Regions from separate parts of the Homo sapiens genome. Here region 1 is linked to region 2. A link means that fine-mapping ties the variant in region 2 to the expression of a gene that starts in the linked region. Tissue or cell type: adrenal gland. Region 2 holds a variant in brackets; the other region holds the start of a gene. All regions are shown on one strand. Distances are from middle to middle.

What was found. PIP is the estimated chance that this variant, and not a neighbour inherited with it, causes the effect.
Region 1: it holds the start of TBX4, and the variant in region 2 is fine-mapped to the expression of TBX4 in adrenal gland (GTEx, PIP above 0.99).

Annotation. Positions count from the first base shown.
Region 1 is chr17:61,448,997-61,457,098 of GRCh38, reverse strand. TBX4 (T-box transcription factor 4) reads right to left here and starts at 4,677. Exons shown (of 9, transcript NM_001321120.2): 1 at 4,522-4,677; 2 at 423-611. The coding sequence starts at 608. LOC124904042 (a long non-coding RNA gene) reads left to right here. Exons shown (of 2, transcript XR_007065872.1): 2 at 1-3,857. RefSeq lists enhancers at 1,303-2,183, 2,184-3,065, 3,866-4,707.
Region 2 is chr17:61,491,098-61,499,199 of GRCh38, reverse strand. No RefSeq gene overlaps it. Among named protein-coding and RNA genes, the nearest start is that of TBX4, 43 kb to the right of the region's middle. The variant T/C (reference allele first, on the strand shown) is at 4,065.

The DNA.
Region 1 (8,102 bases), 42 kb after region 2:
CTCGGCGACGTCCCAGAGGCCTCGGATCCCCGCAGCGGCTCCCGTGCGCACCGGCGGGGTGGCCTCCTCCTGCCCCCTCGCCGTTGGGTCCCAGGCCCTCTACGGGTTGTTGGAGCTGGACACTTGGTCCAGGCTCGCTCAGATGCTACGGGGGTCTCCCTCTCTCTTACCGCCCTCTCCTCTATCTCTAGCTCTAGCTCTTGCTTGTCCCAGAGTAGCCCCGAGGGCTCAAAGTGGAGAAGGACCCAAAAGGCAGAGAAAGCGAGCCATGTCCAGTGGAGAACGAACGGGCAGACCGTCCTGAATGCAGCCAGGTCCTCCTGAAAGCGAGTCCTGCCGACAATCGGACGGAAAGACGGACACAGGCGGCCCCGCAGACAGACCGACGCCCGACTTCTACCCGACGGCTGGCGCAGCCCTACCTGCTCCGCGGCGGCGGCGGCGACGACGTCGGCCCCGGGTCCCGGGGGGCTGCCTAGCGCGGCTCCGCTGAGGCCCGGCGCTGCCAGCGCGGGCTCGGGGGCGTTGGCTGCGCTGGCCTCTCCGAGCGCTGGGCCCGGGGCCCGGAAGGCCTCCTCGCTCTCGGACAGGCCCTTATCCTGCAGCATCTCCTGCGGGCACAGCACACAACGAGTCACTCGCCCAGGTCCACACTCGCCAGAGGACCCCTGGCCCTCTCCAGCCGATTCCGGGACTTCGTGCGGGGCGCGGAGGCAGCCCTGGAGCACGTGGACCCCGCCCCCTCCTGAGCTGGAGGAGGGAACCCGCAAGGAAGGCAGGTCCCTCGCCTCCTCCCTTCAGGCTGTGGACCTGGGAGGGTCTGCGGCAGTTCAATGTCTGCCTGCCCCTGGGTGTGGGGTTCTGTGATGAGTAGGTCTAGGGGAGGGACCGCCCTCTCGGCATTGCCACAGCTGCACCCCGAGTCCCTCACTCCTACTGAGCTCCGGTGGAGCCTGAGGCCTGGGCCTTCTCGGCTGTTCCCCAATAACTGGGGTCCAGGCCTCTCTGTGGGCCCAGGACAGCCAGGACACCTCCTGGCCATGCAGGAAAGGAGAGCCAGGCTGGAGGGCAGGGCCCAGGCTCCTGCAGCTCCACACCTGTGTGCAGAGAGGGCCTCAGGACCTCAGGCCCAGCTCACCCATCTGCCCTCACCCAACCCCTCAGACAGCACTGAGGTAGAGACTTCCTGAACCAAAGGCTTTCACTCCAACACACTCCCCGTCCACACACATCCTCTTCCCGTTCTGGCACAGACATCCTCACACCCAAACACAGCCCCTCACACAGCATCCCACCAGCCTGAGCAGCCACACTCTCCTGGGTGACTGATCCAGGCTCTGCCCTCAGCCCAGGCCTCCCCTACCTGGTGCTCGAGTTCGAACCTACAGGCTCACTCAGGCACACTTTAGCGCCACAGGGCTCTGCTTTGGGCCTAAAGACCCACACCCTTCCCAGTGAAGGACCAGGCCAGCAGGCTGGGCCCATTCACAGGAACCGCTTAGCCCTGCCTGGCACAGCTACATTTCTTCGGCTGTCTTGGCTGATTCCCTCGCCTACTCAGGTGCCTGCTCCCTGCCCGAAGCAGGTCCTGGGGCCTCGGGATGAGAGCACAGCCTGAGAGGCCAGCCTGCCCGCATCCCTTAAGGGTGTGCCCCGCTTGCTCCGCTTCCCCTTTCCACCTCCCTGCTCTTCCCCATCCTGCTGGACCTGGGCGCTCCAGCGGAGCTTTCTGTAGGTCTGACGGCCCTTCTTGAGGCGGAATGCCCCGCCTTTCTCTTCCTACCTTCTTCCCGCTCTCCCCGGGCCCTCCCGGAGCATCCCCGGGCTCAGGCCTCTCGCCCATCTTGTTCAGAGGCCTCCTCATCCCGGGCTTAGACTTCGACTCCCAGGACCTCGCAAAGTAAACAAGCCAAGTGCAACCCAGGAGATAAAAAGGGGCCGGGGCCAGTCTGGGTTGGGAAAAACCCATAAAGATAAGGTTGACAGGCGGACCAGTCTTCGGCCACAGCCTGCAGGGAGTGAGACTCGCTGGACATGGCCAGCGCCAGCACCCGCCTCGGGCCACGTGCGAACGCGGGCCGAGCCTCGGAAACCTAGGAGTCCCCACACAGGGCCGCTGCGCCAGTAGGGTAGCTGCCCGCTCCGGCCAGCGCGCTGGGTCCAACTATATCTAGGGCCCCGGCGGGATCGGCTCCAGCGACCAAGCGATCCGCTGGTCCCAGATGTGGCGGCCTGCGGGGTCGCAAGGAGGGGCCGTCTCGCGCTTGGCCCGCATGGCCATGGGGTCCTCTGCTGGGCTCTTGTCACACCCGGAGCCGTGCAGCGGAGCCCTGCGGCTCGCGCCCTGCGCTCTCAGTCCTACGCGCTCAGCCCTGCCCTGTGAGGAGCTGGTTCACCGCCCGCGTCCACTGACGCCGGTCCCGCAGCTCGGACTGGGGACGAGGCCTGCTCAGTGCTCTCCCTCCCGGGCTCAGGGTTTGCCTCTTCCTTTTCTCTCCGCCACGAAGCCACATCCAGACCTCGGGACAGCTTGCCCCCTTCCCAGCAATTTCCTTTTTTCCACGCCCGGCTGGCCCGGGGCGGCCGTCCTCGCGGTCCTCTCGGACCTCGAGCTTGGGCGCGCTCGGCCGCCGCCAGCACCGCGGGGTCCCGCACTCAGCACCGCATAGCGGTCCGCTCTCGTCCTTCACATCCACTCCTCCGCGGGTGCGGCCCGCAACCTCCGCTGCCTTTGCGATGGGGTCTGTTGCTTTCAGCTGCCTCGTTTTCCAAAGACGACAGCATTTCTCTTTTCATTTTTAGGTTACTGGGGATATGTTTCTTGCACTAGGGGAACTGTTACTATTTCGTGCTTTTTAAAATATTTTAATTGTCCTTATTACCATAGTAGTATTTTGATCAGTTCGGGAACTTTGAGAATATCCTATCGCGTGGATTATTACTACTTTGTATCTTTAATACTGTATGGTTAAAGCCCTGCTTTGATTCGTTAGCTTACTGTTACTAAATTTGTTGTTTTCCTGTCACTGTTCCATCATTTCAGGGCCGCCTGGCACATTCATAATACTATTTCCAATATCGAGGTGACATAGTGAACAATAGGTCACGTTAATCTATTGTAATTTTTTATTCTTGCTTTGTATCCCTAATACGTTTCCGTTGCTTGCTCTTCATTTTGATTATACTTTGTCACGCTGTTTCAATAACTTCTTGTTTACCATAACTTGTTATATAATTGTTCTCAAAATTCATGTTAATTTCCCTCACATCCTTATAATACTTCTTGTTATCTAACCACAATTTGTTTTGTTAGGCTTGCTCATAACACTCCAGGTATTATTCTTCAACACACCCCGACAGTATCTTGTTACTTTGTCATTATTTGTAATGTTACAGATCTGAACTCGCTAGTTACTCATCACATCATTACTTCTTGTTATTTTGTCATACTTTGTAATATTGTTGTAGCTCTTAATACTCTGATTATTTTTCATCACATTGGTACAATACTTCTTATTACTCAACCATTATTTATAATGTTCTTGTGACTATTAATACATTGGTCATAAATTGTCATATTACTCCAGCAATTCTTGTTAATATGTCTTTATTTATATTACTATTGCTCCTAAGATTTTAGTTAATATTTCTTTTAATAGTTCACTGTAGTATCAATAATACATTATATTATTATATCACTACCACTAATAGTATTTCCCTTAATAGTATTTTCATTGTTCATCTTTCTCCTACAGTTCGTTTGCTAGTTTCCTACAGTTTGGTAATTTGTTACACTATTACTATATGTTATATTAGTGCAATTGGTTTTAATAAACAGTCCTTACATTGTTCCTCTATTTAGAATTACTTTGTCTTTAATCCTTTTAAAAATTGTGATTACTATTTTCACTTGATTCTGAAAGTGACTATGATTGTATTATTTGGAAGTTCACGTGTTATATCAGTTATGCCGATTAGCCCTTTCTTTGGTAATTGTTCACATTCCAATAATCTTTAATCATCGATCATTATTTATATATAATGTTCCTTGCTTTAATTTTGACTAGTCTATTGCATCAAAGGCTCTGAGTCTAGTGTTCTGATCACTCACATATCTACACGGATTTTCGCTCCAGTACCGGGGCCCTCTTCCTTGGCCTTGCATATTCTGCAAACACCAATTTCCAGGCCACCGCTCCGCCTGTCACGGCCTTGTTCTTAGGGTGCTGGCGCTGTCGATATTTCTATGCTCTTGGATCTCTAGACCCAATTCATCGCGTTACTCAGAGAGGAGGGCTCGTGCCCCAACTACTGGGTGTCGGGCCGAGGCGGCGGCCCGACCCAAGGCACTTCGCGCCGCCTTCCTGCAACTTTGACCGCCCCTGAAGTTCTTCCCCGGGTCGCGTGACTCACCCCTTTCCAGCTCATCCTCCTGTCCGTCCCCGCAGCCTAACCCTGAGCCCCTGTGGCCCCAGCCCCGCACGCCCAGCTCGTCCCCACTCGGCTGGAACCCACACTCACCCTAATTGCGGTGCCGCATGCGGAGGCGCCAGCGGCCCGAGGTCCCCTGCAGGTTCGGGTCCGAGGAGCGCGGGACGGCCGGGGCTCCGACTCCGCGCCGCTGGGTCAGGGTCCAGCTGCCTGCCGTGCCCTCGGGGCTGGACACATCCCGGCTCTGGAGCGGGCCCTTGATCTCCAAGGCTGCACTTTGGGGCCTCAATTCCCTCCTCCTCCCTCCCTCCCTCTGGGGCCGCCCCCCCTCCGCGCTGACGTCGCCGCTGTCAATCAGTCTGCGCCCGCTGTCCCCCGGGGAGGGGGGCTCCAGGGTTCCCCGGCGTCGCGGTCCCCAAGATCCCGAGCCCCACGCGAGCCGCCGGCTCCTCCACCGCGCGGCCCAGTGCCCTCCTCTTGGCCCTCGGGCCCCGCGAGCCGGGTAGGGGCTGGGAGCCCCGCATGGTTTAGATTAGAGAGGCGGGAAGCAAGGGCGAGCAGCCCGGCTCTCAGCCGAGGCTCGACAACCAGGAGGGCTCGCCTGGCCCCGCCGTGCCCGAAGACTAGGACGCTCCACGACCGGGTCTGGCCACCCCCTGCCGGCGCCCGCTTCCAGGCAGCGGCTTCTACGGATCCCCGGCCGCAGAGCCCCGCTCCCCAAGCCCTGCTCCCAGCTGTGCGCGCTGTTCATTTGGGAGCCCCGGTCCCGAGGTCGCAGGCGCACACGCGCCTCACAGGCCCACGCTCCGCTTCCCTACCATGCCCACCACGCGGCCTTGCACTTCCAGGCCCTGGGCACGGCCCTTCTGCTCACCCGCCCTCCTTGTCCCGGCCCAGGGGGCCGCGGGCGCTGGACCCGGCCTGGCGCGCCTCGAAGTCGGCCGCGGAGGTCAGGGGTGAGGACTGGGAGGAAGCCCGGTGGCCGGGTGCGGGGCGGCGGCGGCAGGGAAGTGCTGGGCCGGCCTCTGAGTGGAGCCGAGTCCGGCTCGGGCCTTGACAGAGCCCAGGCCGGGCTGCAAGGTGCCAGGCTTGGCAGAGCCTCCTGGGGAAACTGCGGCCCAGGGCCAGGATTCCGCGGCAGCTCCTTGAGATCCTGGAGAGCTGAAGAGGAAGCCCAATGCCTGCCCTAGTCTAGGAAGTGGAGACTGGGGAGCGTCCTGCTCCCAGCCACCCGGTTCTTTCCGCCTCAGAAACGGAGTCCCGCTCAGCACCTAGACCTCCCTGCCCAGCCTCTGAGCTCTCTGTCTCCACTTACCTCTGTTTCTCTCTGTCTGTACCTCCCACAGGACGCTGCCTTTCCACTAGCAGACGGACCCATGCGGACCCCAGCCCGTGCCCCAGCCTCCCCGCCTGTCACATGCCCAGAATCCTGGGGCAGAAATAGGCCTGCCCACCCATCTGCAAAGACAGCAGAATCCTCATCAATAAGGATCCCCAGAGTGGTCCCTTAGTGCTTAGCATGGGCTGCATCCCTCCCTCCACCAGTGTCCTCAACCAGCCTCTGTCCCTTTCCAGATTCTGACCTCAAAATCAGCTTGAAGGGGAGAGGACAGGGAAATTCTTTTCCTGGATGGGTCTGTCCCTGTTCTAATGCTAGGAAATGGAAAGCCAGCATCAATGCCTTCTTTACCACCCTGCACTCAAAGGTGGAAGCAAAAACGCCAACTCAGAAAAGCCAGTCGCTGCTGCTGTCAGGAGCCTGAAATCCACCTCAACAGTGGGCCGCTGCTCAAGTCCCTATCACCATTGCAGTACCAGGTCCCACCACCCTATCACCATTCCTCTCATGGAGTCTCAAACCAGGGAGGGGAAATAATATCTAAGAGGAGTGGAGGAGCAGAATCCTTCCCCAAACCTGCGGACTCCTGGAATGGAGAAAGGGAAGGCCCTGGCGTTTCAGGAGATGCCTGGGGAGTCGTGTTTCCTGTGTTAGGGAGACCTGGATGACATGCCTCAGCTTCTGCTCGCAAGCCCCCTCCCATGACCTCTCCAACAGCCTGTAGGGAAATCCCTTGCAAATAAATAGTATACAGACTAAGCAACCAACTACTGTGTGGAATGGTGAACAGGGAGGGCAGTGAATCACCAGGTACTATGGGAAGACTAGAGCTAGGCCAGACTCTGGAAAGAATTTGTTGACAGTCATTGGAGGAAGTTCATACTGAGATCGTATCGTATAGTTCTTTAATAAAACAAACAAACAAAAACAAACAAACTAGACTGGAACCTTCCTATAAGTGCAAGGCTTTCTGGAGACTGATGGCAGACAGTCTAAATTAATATCAACAGGTTCATGATGACATGGAGAAATGAGATATGGAAGGGACAGGTAAGCTTTTGGCAGTAAAAAGGAAGGGGCAAACCAGCCAGCAAGTGAGTAAATGAGAGCGGTTCTGTATGCACATTCCCCATTATTAGAATGGAATACCTCATTTAACTGACTCTAAGACACACATTTTTCACATTCTGGTATCTCTGAAACTGAGATGCATCTGATAGCTAGCGGTGTGTCATAGCTTAATTAGCAGCGTTTTTTCTTCTTAGTCGTATGTAAAATAATAGAAAAGCTTATAATGGATGCTGCATAGTATTTGCTGAAAAAGAGCCTGTGTAGAAGAGGAGAAGACCAATTTTTTTTTCTCCAAAACTACTTTGAGGAGTTCAAAATATGAAAACCCTCCTCAACTAGCTAAACAAATAACTGACGGTGCCACACATCGGTCACACTGATTTGGGTTGGCTTGGGGGAAAGTGCTCAGGTTTGGTAGCAGGCTCACCTTGGTTTTGAAACCTAGCTCTGATTCCTGGCTCACCATTTTGCAGCTATGTGACCTTGGGCAAGTTCATTAATGCTCATATAAAATGGGGATAATTACGCCAACCTACTAGCTTATTGTGAGGATTGCCTATATTAATGCATGGTTGATAAAGGCTAGCTCCCAAGTATTTTAAAAATTTATTCTACTTTTCTCTTTTCCGCAAAAGGCTTGAGGTGGTTTATAACCAGAATTAGCTAATAAAAACACAAGTAGAAAAACACATTAGGATCAAGGAAAAAGGAGTAAGCATATATGCTATCACTAAGTGCTGACAAAGTTGCTATAATTGAGAATAAAATCTGGCTTATGAGCCAGCAGAGCAACATGGTAGTTCTCTATATCAGAAATGTGGAAACAGTAACTCTTTGGTGAATGGTGAAGGAACAGACTTTGTCCTGGCCCTAAATTTTAAAAAGTAGTTTCTCGGCTGGTCGCAGTGGCTCATGCCTATAATCCCAGGACTTTGGGAGGCCTAGGCAGGCGGATCATTTGAGGCCTGGAGTTCAAGACCAGCCTGGCCAACATGGTGAAACACTGTCTCTACTAAAAATACAAAAATTAGCAAGACATGGTGGCGCATGCCTGTAGTCCCAGCTACTCTGGAGGCTGAGGCAGGGGAATCACTTGAACCTGGGAGGCAGAGGTTTCAGTGAGCCGAAATAGTGCCATTGCACTCCAGCCTGGATGATAGAGTGAGAGTCTGTCTCAAAAATAATAATAATAAATAAAATTTAAAAATAAAGAAAAAATAAAAGTAGTTTCTAATGTAAATGTTTATTGTTATATCGTACA
Region 2 (8,102 bases):
TTCTCATAAAATTATAAAACAATAAAAGATAAATATCTGTTGTGAAATATCAGTAGACCCAATAAATGGCAGTTAGATTAGTCACCCCTCCCCACAAGAACCTCAGATAACAGAATTATCATCTAGAGATTATTTTAAAATTGTTTAAGATAATTAAATACAAAAAAGAAGAGATTGTGAACATCAGAAAAAGCAATAATTTTTAAGACTAAGCTGACTTGAAAAAGAATCAAATAGAGTTTCAAGGAATGAAACATACAATTGTCCTTGAAATTCAGAGTATTCATTGATTCCATGAAAGTGGAAAGTCTTAGTTAAATAAATGACTGGTTCTAACCATAGAAGCATAAACATGACCCCTGGTTAATTGTCCTTTTGTACTGCGGCCATCAGACAACCCTCCATCTTTGGTTGTGACGTGCTTAACACCAGCAGACATGGAATAAGCAGGAATGTTCTGAATGGGCTGGACATCCCTACAAACTCCTTCCCAGGGTATTTGTCTGTCTGTCTTAAATACTAAATGTGGCATTTTTAGTGAAATACCACCAAAAGGGTAATGCTGAAAAATGACCTAGCAAAATAGAAATTCAGAGGGAGCTTCCTGGTGGCTACACAGTTACTATTGGAGGGTTTTTTTTTTAATGCTACCTACACAAAATGAGCCCCATCTGGCCTGGTTCAGGCTTAGGCTGTGTTGCAGGCAGCTGACATAATTCCCCATGTTTAATTTCAACACTTTCCCCAATCTGCATAGTGGAACCAGCCCTTGCAGATCTTGGAGTCAGATTGGAATTTAAATTCTAGTTTCACCGCCTACCACTGTATCTGGCCCAGAGTTGACACTCAGTCTCTGAGACCTCCTTTCCCCTCCCACCTCCAGAATCTTTATCAAAGCCTCAGGACACACAGTGGCTGTGCTTCTGCTCATCTGAGTCCTAAGGACCCTCAGGAAATGGAGATAGTAGCTACTATTTACAATTACTCTTGCCAGTCATTGCCCTCTGTGCTTTATATACGTTACTTCATTTCTTTTTCTTTTTCTTTTTCTTTTTCTTTTTTTTTTGAGACGGAGTCTCACTCTGTTGCCCAGGCTGGAGTGCAGCGGCACAATCTCGGCTCACTGCAGCTTCCGTCTCCCAGGTTCAAGTGATTCTCCTGCCTCAGCCTCCCAAGTAGCTGGGATTACAGGTGCCCACCACCAAGCCCAGCTAATTTTTGTATTTTTAGTAGAGATGGGGTTTCACCACGTTGGCCAGGCTGGTCTCGAACTCCTGATCTCAGGTGATCCACCTGCCTCGGCCTTTCAAAGTGCCGGGATTACAGGCATGAGCCACCGCGCCCAGCCACGTTACTTCATATCGATTCTCACAACTACCCTGAGACATATACATATATAATTTTCCCCATTTTTTAAAATAAAGAACCTGGTACTATTTTTTATTTTTATTTTGCCCAAGATCACACCCTACAGCATGTCAGAAAGGAGATTTGAACCCATGTCTGTTCTAGGTTTTTTCCATAACACTAAGTAGCCTGACTTGTGGCTTATGGTAATATTTTCTAAATCCAGCTTCTTTCTGAAAAGACTTCATTTTCACAAAGGTTTAAACACTTGCAAGTAAACAAAAGGGGTGGGTTCTGTGGTCTTCACGACAGCCATGTTCCCACTACAGGCCTGGCTGCTCCCTCAGCTGGGAGCTGCTGCCCACTCTTATGGAAACTGCATCCAGGACAGGCTTTATTGATGCTGCCTTCAAAGCCAAGGCGGCCATCTGAGAGGATGGAAGAAACCAGTAAAGTATGGGACTCTGGTGAGCCATCCCAGGTACAGTTGTGTTTTTATGCACCAGCACATTTGTGGAGCAAATTTGGTGTCCTCATAACGGCAGTTCATGAGTACAAGTGAGGTTCAGTTCTTTGTGTAAACAGGGGAGAAAGCCTGTGTCTGAATATAATTCCGACGGCATCAAGGTCATTTTAGAGCTGGTGGAGCTCTATTTGTCTTAGGAAATCTCGAAAACTTTTATAGGGAATTCGGAAAATATTTTCGGCCAGCAGGAAAGATAAAATCCCTGCACACAAAGTGCAGGCATGGGCCCAGAGACTGAACAGACAGACTGCTGTAAAACCCCTGTTTAATAAGGCATTAAAATGCCATCGACCTGGACACATTTTTTAAAAAAAAAAGAGCTATGAAAACAAATACCATTCAAATAATTAGGATCTTATGCCTGAGGCCAGCCTTGATGCCAAGCAGGGACTTCCCTGCAGGAATCGGAGCTGAGCCTGATTCCCAAAAGGAGGAATCAGCCAAGACAAAGGCAGCTCTGGGCCTGGGTTTTTTCCCAGCCCCCTTCGACTGCCTGCCTCTAGATGCTGAAGGCAGGGTATCTACAGTCGTTTCCCTCCCCACATCTTGGGTAACTTTCTAGTCCAGTAGCTCCAGTGGGGGTCGTGTGCCCCCTGAGGCTGACTGACCTGCCTTCAGGAAGGCCCGCGGGGAAGGCCTTGAAGGCTGAGCCCTTGTACCTTTCTGCTCCATAAAGGACAAGGAGGCATTTGAAGGCCTGCTCTATTGGGAACTATGTGCCAAATGGGAGTGAAGGTTGGATAGTGAACATTTGTTTATGAACGTAGCTGTGAGGGGGAAAAAAGATGTCTTTTCATTAGCTCCTGCAAACACGGAAGCTGCCGCTGAGCTATTTCCTGCCACCGTAGCTTCTGAATAGTTGAAGGCCAGGTGCCCAGTGGCACATTACTTTACCACCCCTAATATCGCCCCCCCAGGGTAGTTTCCAAGGGCTAAGCCTCAGAAATCTGAAAAATAAAGAACGTGTCATTTTATTATTTCTGAAATGGTTGTTTGTTTGTTTGGGGGGCACCAGTATTGCACAAGACTGATGCTTAGCAGGTCTAATTGAAGGAGCTTTCATAAAATTGAATGTTAAATCCTATTGTGTCTCTGGTACAATTTGAGAGGACCTCTTTATTTTTTGCCTTTTCATTCTCTTCCTTTAAAAAATTCTCATATGAACTTGTATCAGTGATGGGTAACTCTGCTTAAGGAGTCCCATAGAGAAAGTTGTAACTATCTGAATATATTTCTCATGTTTGATTTCTTCTTCCTCCTGTACATTTCCTTTTCTTCCAAGAGATTGTAATCACAGCAAAATTTCAAAATGAGAGAGCAGAGAAAGAGAGAGAGAAGAAAGGCGGGGGGAAAGAAAGAAATATAAAGCCCTCACATTTTCTGGGGTTAATTTGAATTGAACCAGTTGGTTTCATTTTGCGATACAAAAGAAAAATTCAGGCCTTAGGGCCTAAGACTTTCATTAAATTCAGCTTTGGCAAGTTCTAATAATACAGGGGTTTATTAAAAGCGTGAAAAATGTCATTGCCGAAGCCTTTCCTAAGCCGCGGCCTCACCTCTCAAGTATGACTCACGCTTCCTCCGTGGCCGCCTGAGCTGTAAAGTTGGGGGCAGGATATTTGAGGTCCAGGGAACCGGTTCCTTGAATCTCTCTTGCCATTTGGCCAGGATCACGTCCCAATTAGCGACCTTGCCATACAGAGCAGTAGCTGGACAGCAAAAGTGAGAGAGGGGCTGAGTGCTCAGGCCTGTTGTAAACGATTAGTCCAAAAGAGTAGCGCGAAACTTAGAACCGCTGTCCCCGGCAGGAGGAAATGAAAGGATCAACACGAGAGGAGCACTGTGGCCAATTGTTCCCGGCCACAGCCACAGGCTTTTCTGTGTGTGCCGGAAATTGACCTCCCCAAAAGCCGAGGATGCAGGCGGGGCAGGGAGATTGATAAGGCAGGTGATGCTAAATCATCCCCCTCTCAGAGCTAATGGGATTGGTCAGTGCCTTGCCAATCATTCCCCCTCCTTACCCTATAAAAATCAGTGGGTCTTTTCGAGAAGAAATGAGCATGGACTGGCACTGATTGGACCAACAAGAAGCTTACTCATCGCAATCCTTTTCACTTCTTACTACGTATTTTCATTCAGAAGCATCTCATTTGGCCTGTGGACCAAGGCCAGGAGGTTGGCAACACAGATA[T/C]TACTCATCCCTTTTTATAACAGAGGATGTTGAAGCCAAAAAAGATAGAGGGACTTGCCCAAGGCCTCCAAAAACACAGCAACAAAGCTGGGACTTTCTTTTGACAATAGATGTATCCCAGTGTCACCGAGTGTGGCAACAGACTTGGAAGGAGGCAGCAAAGCTCAAGCCATCCCTTCCTGGGGGCACTAGTGAGGATGGCTGGCTGACCTGCTGGAGGCACATTCTTTTCTAAGTGTCCTTGAATGCTGTCCTGTGTCCTGGATGAGCCCCAAACCCCTGGCAGTGGGGGGCGCTCAGAGGGCTGGGAGGACCAGGCAGGAATTCCCCAGCGTCACTCTCCTGCCGCTGGCCTTGTGCACCTAACCGCACGTAGATCTGGACTTTGGCGTCTGGTAAAGGAGGCTTAACTGTGAGACAGGAGACGCAATAAAGTCAATAAACAGAATTTCCCAGAAAAGAAAAATCTCACTCTTTTAGACATCTAAAATGAGTCCCGTGCAGACAGGCAAATTATGTGGGGGGAAGGGGAACAACTTGAACTGAGCACACGTTTCATCTCTATCGTCTCATTTAATCTTTTCTATAACCTTGAAAGATAAGGAGTATTTTATTGCCCCTAATTAACGTGGAGAGACAGGCTCACAGAGATTAGGCAGGCATCTAATGAGGAGTGAAGCTCCAGGCCTCTTCTCTTTCCACTCCTGGGCCTGGCCTCTCCACCCAGAGCTCTGGTGATCCACCTCTGGGAGGACGGTGGAGAGCCCAGGGCATGACAGGAATGGCAGAGGTCCCAGCCTGTGAGCAGAGCCTCATGTTGACTTCCCCATCCCCCTGTGGTCTCCATACATTTTTAAATCTCACCTCCCTTCAGCAAAAAGCCTTAAGGCTGGACGAAGTAGCTCACACCTGTAATCCCAGGACTTTGGGAGGCCGAGGCAGGTGGATCATGTGAGGCCAGGAGTTCCAGACCAGCCTGGCCAACATGGTGAAACCCCATCTCTACTAAAAATTTAAAAATTCGCTGGGCGTGGTGGTGTGCATCTGTAGTCCCAGCTACCCAGGAGGCTAAGGCATGAGACTCGCTGGAACCTGGGAGGCAGAGGTTGCAGTGAGCCGAGATGGTGCCACTGCACTCCAGCCTGGGCAACAGAGCAAGACTCCATCTCAAACAAACAAAGAAACCTTAAAGCACAAGCTACCAATATCTTATTTACAAATTGATTTACAAATTATACATATGTACTACTATACAAATATAGACATTCGATATTTGAAAAGTATTAGAATAAGTTTAAAATGTAAGATAAATAGAGAAAGAAGTTCTACCTCCTCCGTCCCTAACTTTGCTCCAGAGAGGTCTGCTATAGATTGAGACAGAGCCCTGCCATGGCTGAGAAATTCGTGATTGCAAACATGATTTGGGAATCATCATCCTTTAGCGCTGCAAGCGTTGTGAGGAGCTGTGCGGAAGAAAAGGAGGCTCAGAGAGAGGGGAGACACGGCCAGCATGTGACAGATGCGACTAGGACCACATCTTCTCATGCTGAGTCCCAAGCTCCGTGCTCTCCTCTACACTGATAGAAAAAGAAGCCAAAGGTTCATTTTCTTGGGCCAGAAAATTACATTTGGGTCTTTCATGGGACAGACTGGAGATTAATGCCTGAACCTCCTACGTTGTGTCCCGCATACATTCAGGTCCACAGCCGCCCTGAAGAGACAACCACTGGCTTTTCAGTCTGGGCCACAGAGCATGTGGGCCAGGCTACCAGCACGTGGGGGCTAGGGAGAAGGAGGACTGTGCTGTGCCATATTTGATGCTATTAAAAGCAGCTCGCATAGTTTCCATCATTCCTCATGGAGCTGCGTCATTTCCCAGACCCAGCTCTTGCTTCAGGCACCCTAGTTAGGAATTCTGGAAGTTAAAGAAAAGTGATTCCCAAACAAGTCTCTTCTAAGTCATCCCAAGGAAGCATATTTTGACCAAGAGTTGGAAAGGCAAGGAAAGGACACCCTAGCTTTGCTATCCAAGCCAAGTGGGGCTTGGGGACATCCCCAAAACACTTTATTTTCCCCCAGACACTTTAAACAGTTGTTTTCGAGGTACCTGAACTATTTCCTGACTCTACCAGCTTGGGCAGAGCTGACTCACCCACAGGGGGAGGGCGAGAGCTAGTGCAATGACAGCCCCTCCTTTGATCAGCCCCTTCTCTGTGAAGTGGAGGGCAAAAGACAACCCAAGTTCATGGTCCAGTGGGGATGGGTGGTTGGAGTTGGTGGAGGTGACTATAAATTATCATCCTCTAAAAGGGTAACCCTCTGCCATTTTGCATGCTTCAAGTCATAAACTTATTTTACAACATGTTTGTTTCCTTTTTGTTAATAAACTCAAAGTCACTAAAAATACACATCGATTGGGTCCAGTGGCCTCAGAGGACAAGGGAAGAAGGCAAGACCAGCACAGAACACGCAGTGGTAGTGGTGATAATGGCAGCAGTAGTGGCATCTTAGAGAAAAAAGCGAAAGCTTTGGGTTGGAGAGACTTGGGTTTGAAGCCAGTTCTGACCCTTAGCCCATAACCTCGAGCAAGTTTCTTCACCTCCTTGAGCCTCAGTTTCCTCCTCTGTGAGGCAGTGGTGATAATGCCTCTCCTACCAAGTTGTGGGGAGGATTAGATATAATAATCCTAATATAGTAGAGTGCCAAGTCCAATGGCTGATGGCTGATTACTAACAAACTCAGTGTAAATGTCTTTTTCTTTTCTCATTTTATAGATGGGAAACCTAAAACTCAGTTCAGATTCAACCCTCCTTTTCTGAATCTGAAATCTAAAGCAATGCCCTTCCATAAGAGGGGAAGGAAGGAGGGTGGGAACCAGCATTTGTTGAGTTCCTGTTTAGTATCGGAACATCAGGGACAGAGAATGTGCCAAGCCCTCTCACATATGTTATTTTAATCTCCATGATCACAAGAAGCAGATGTTATTTCCAATATTATCTCCATTGCATTGACAGGCACAGAAGGAATGGCTATACTTACAGGCACAAACCAGAAAGTGACAGAGCCAAGTATCGAACCCAGGATTTCTGGCTTAAGAGGCAGAGTTGGTGCCACTAACTCACGGATGCTGAGACATCTACTTCAGTGAGATAGCATTTACCCCTGAGGGGAAAAGGGGAGATCAGAGTGGAAAATTCAGCACCTATTCTTGGTAGAAGGCTAGAAAAGAAGCAGCAGCAAGGTAGGTCTTAAGTCATCAACTCTTTTATTTTTTTATGAGATGGAGTCTCATTCAGCCACCCAGGCTGGAGTGCAGTGGCCTAATTGTGGCTCACTGCAACCACCGTCTACTGGATTCAAGTGATTCTCCTGCCTCAGCCTCCCAAGTAGCTGGGATTACAGACACCCGCCACCATGCCCAGATAATTTTTGTATTTTAGCAGAGATGGGGTTTCACCATGTTGGCCAGACTGGTCTTGAACTACTCACCTCAGGTGATCCGCCCGCCTTGGTAGAAGTCATCTTGCGCCCGGCCAAGTCATCAACTCTTAAGGCTGCAGGTAGCCAGGAGGCGTAAAGGATAACTGGCCCACGGGCGCAGTGGCTCACACCTATAATACTAGCACTTTGGGAGGCCGAGGCGGGCGTATCACCTGAGGTCAGGAGTTCAAGACCAGCCTGGCCAACATGGTGAAACCCCGTCTCTACTAAAAATACAAAAACTAGCTGGGGGTGGTGGAGCATGCCTGTAACCCCAGCTACTCAGGAGGCTAAGGCACAAGAATGAGAATCATCTGAACCTGGGAGGTGGAGGTTGCAGTGGGCCAAGATGGTGCCACTGCACTCCAGTGTGGGTGGCTGAGCGAGAACTTGTTTAAACATAAATAAATAAATAAATAAATAAATAAATAAATAAATAAATAAAACCTGGCTCAGACTTTGTCAAACCTGATGCTGGAGGATCCTCTACAGAACTCACCAACCAAGCCTCCAAAGACCCTCTGGCCATTGGCCTCCCCGTTTTCGATCAGCTCCCAA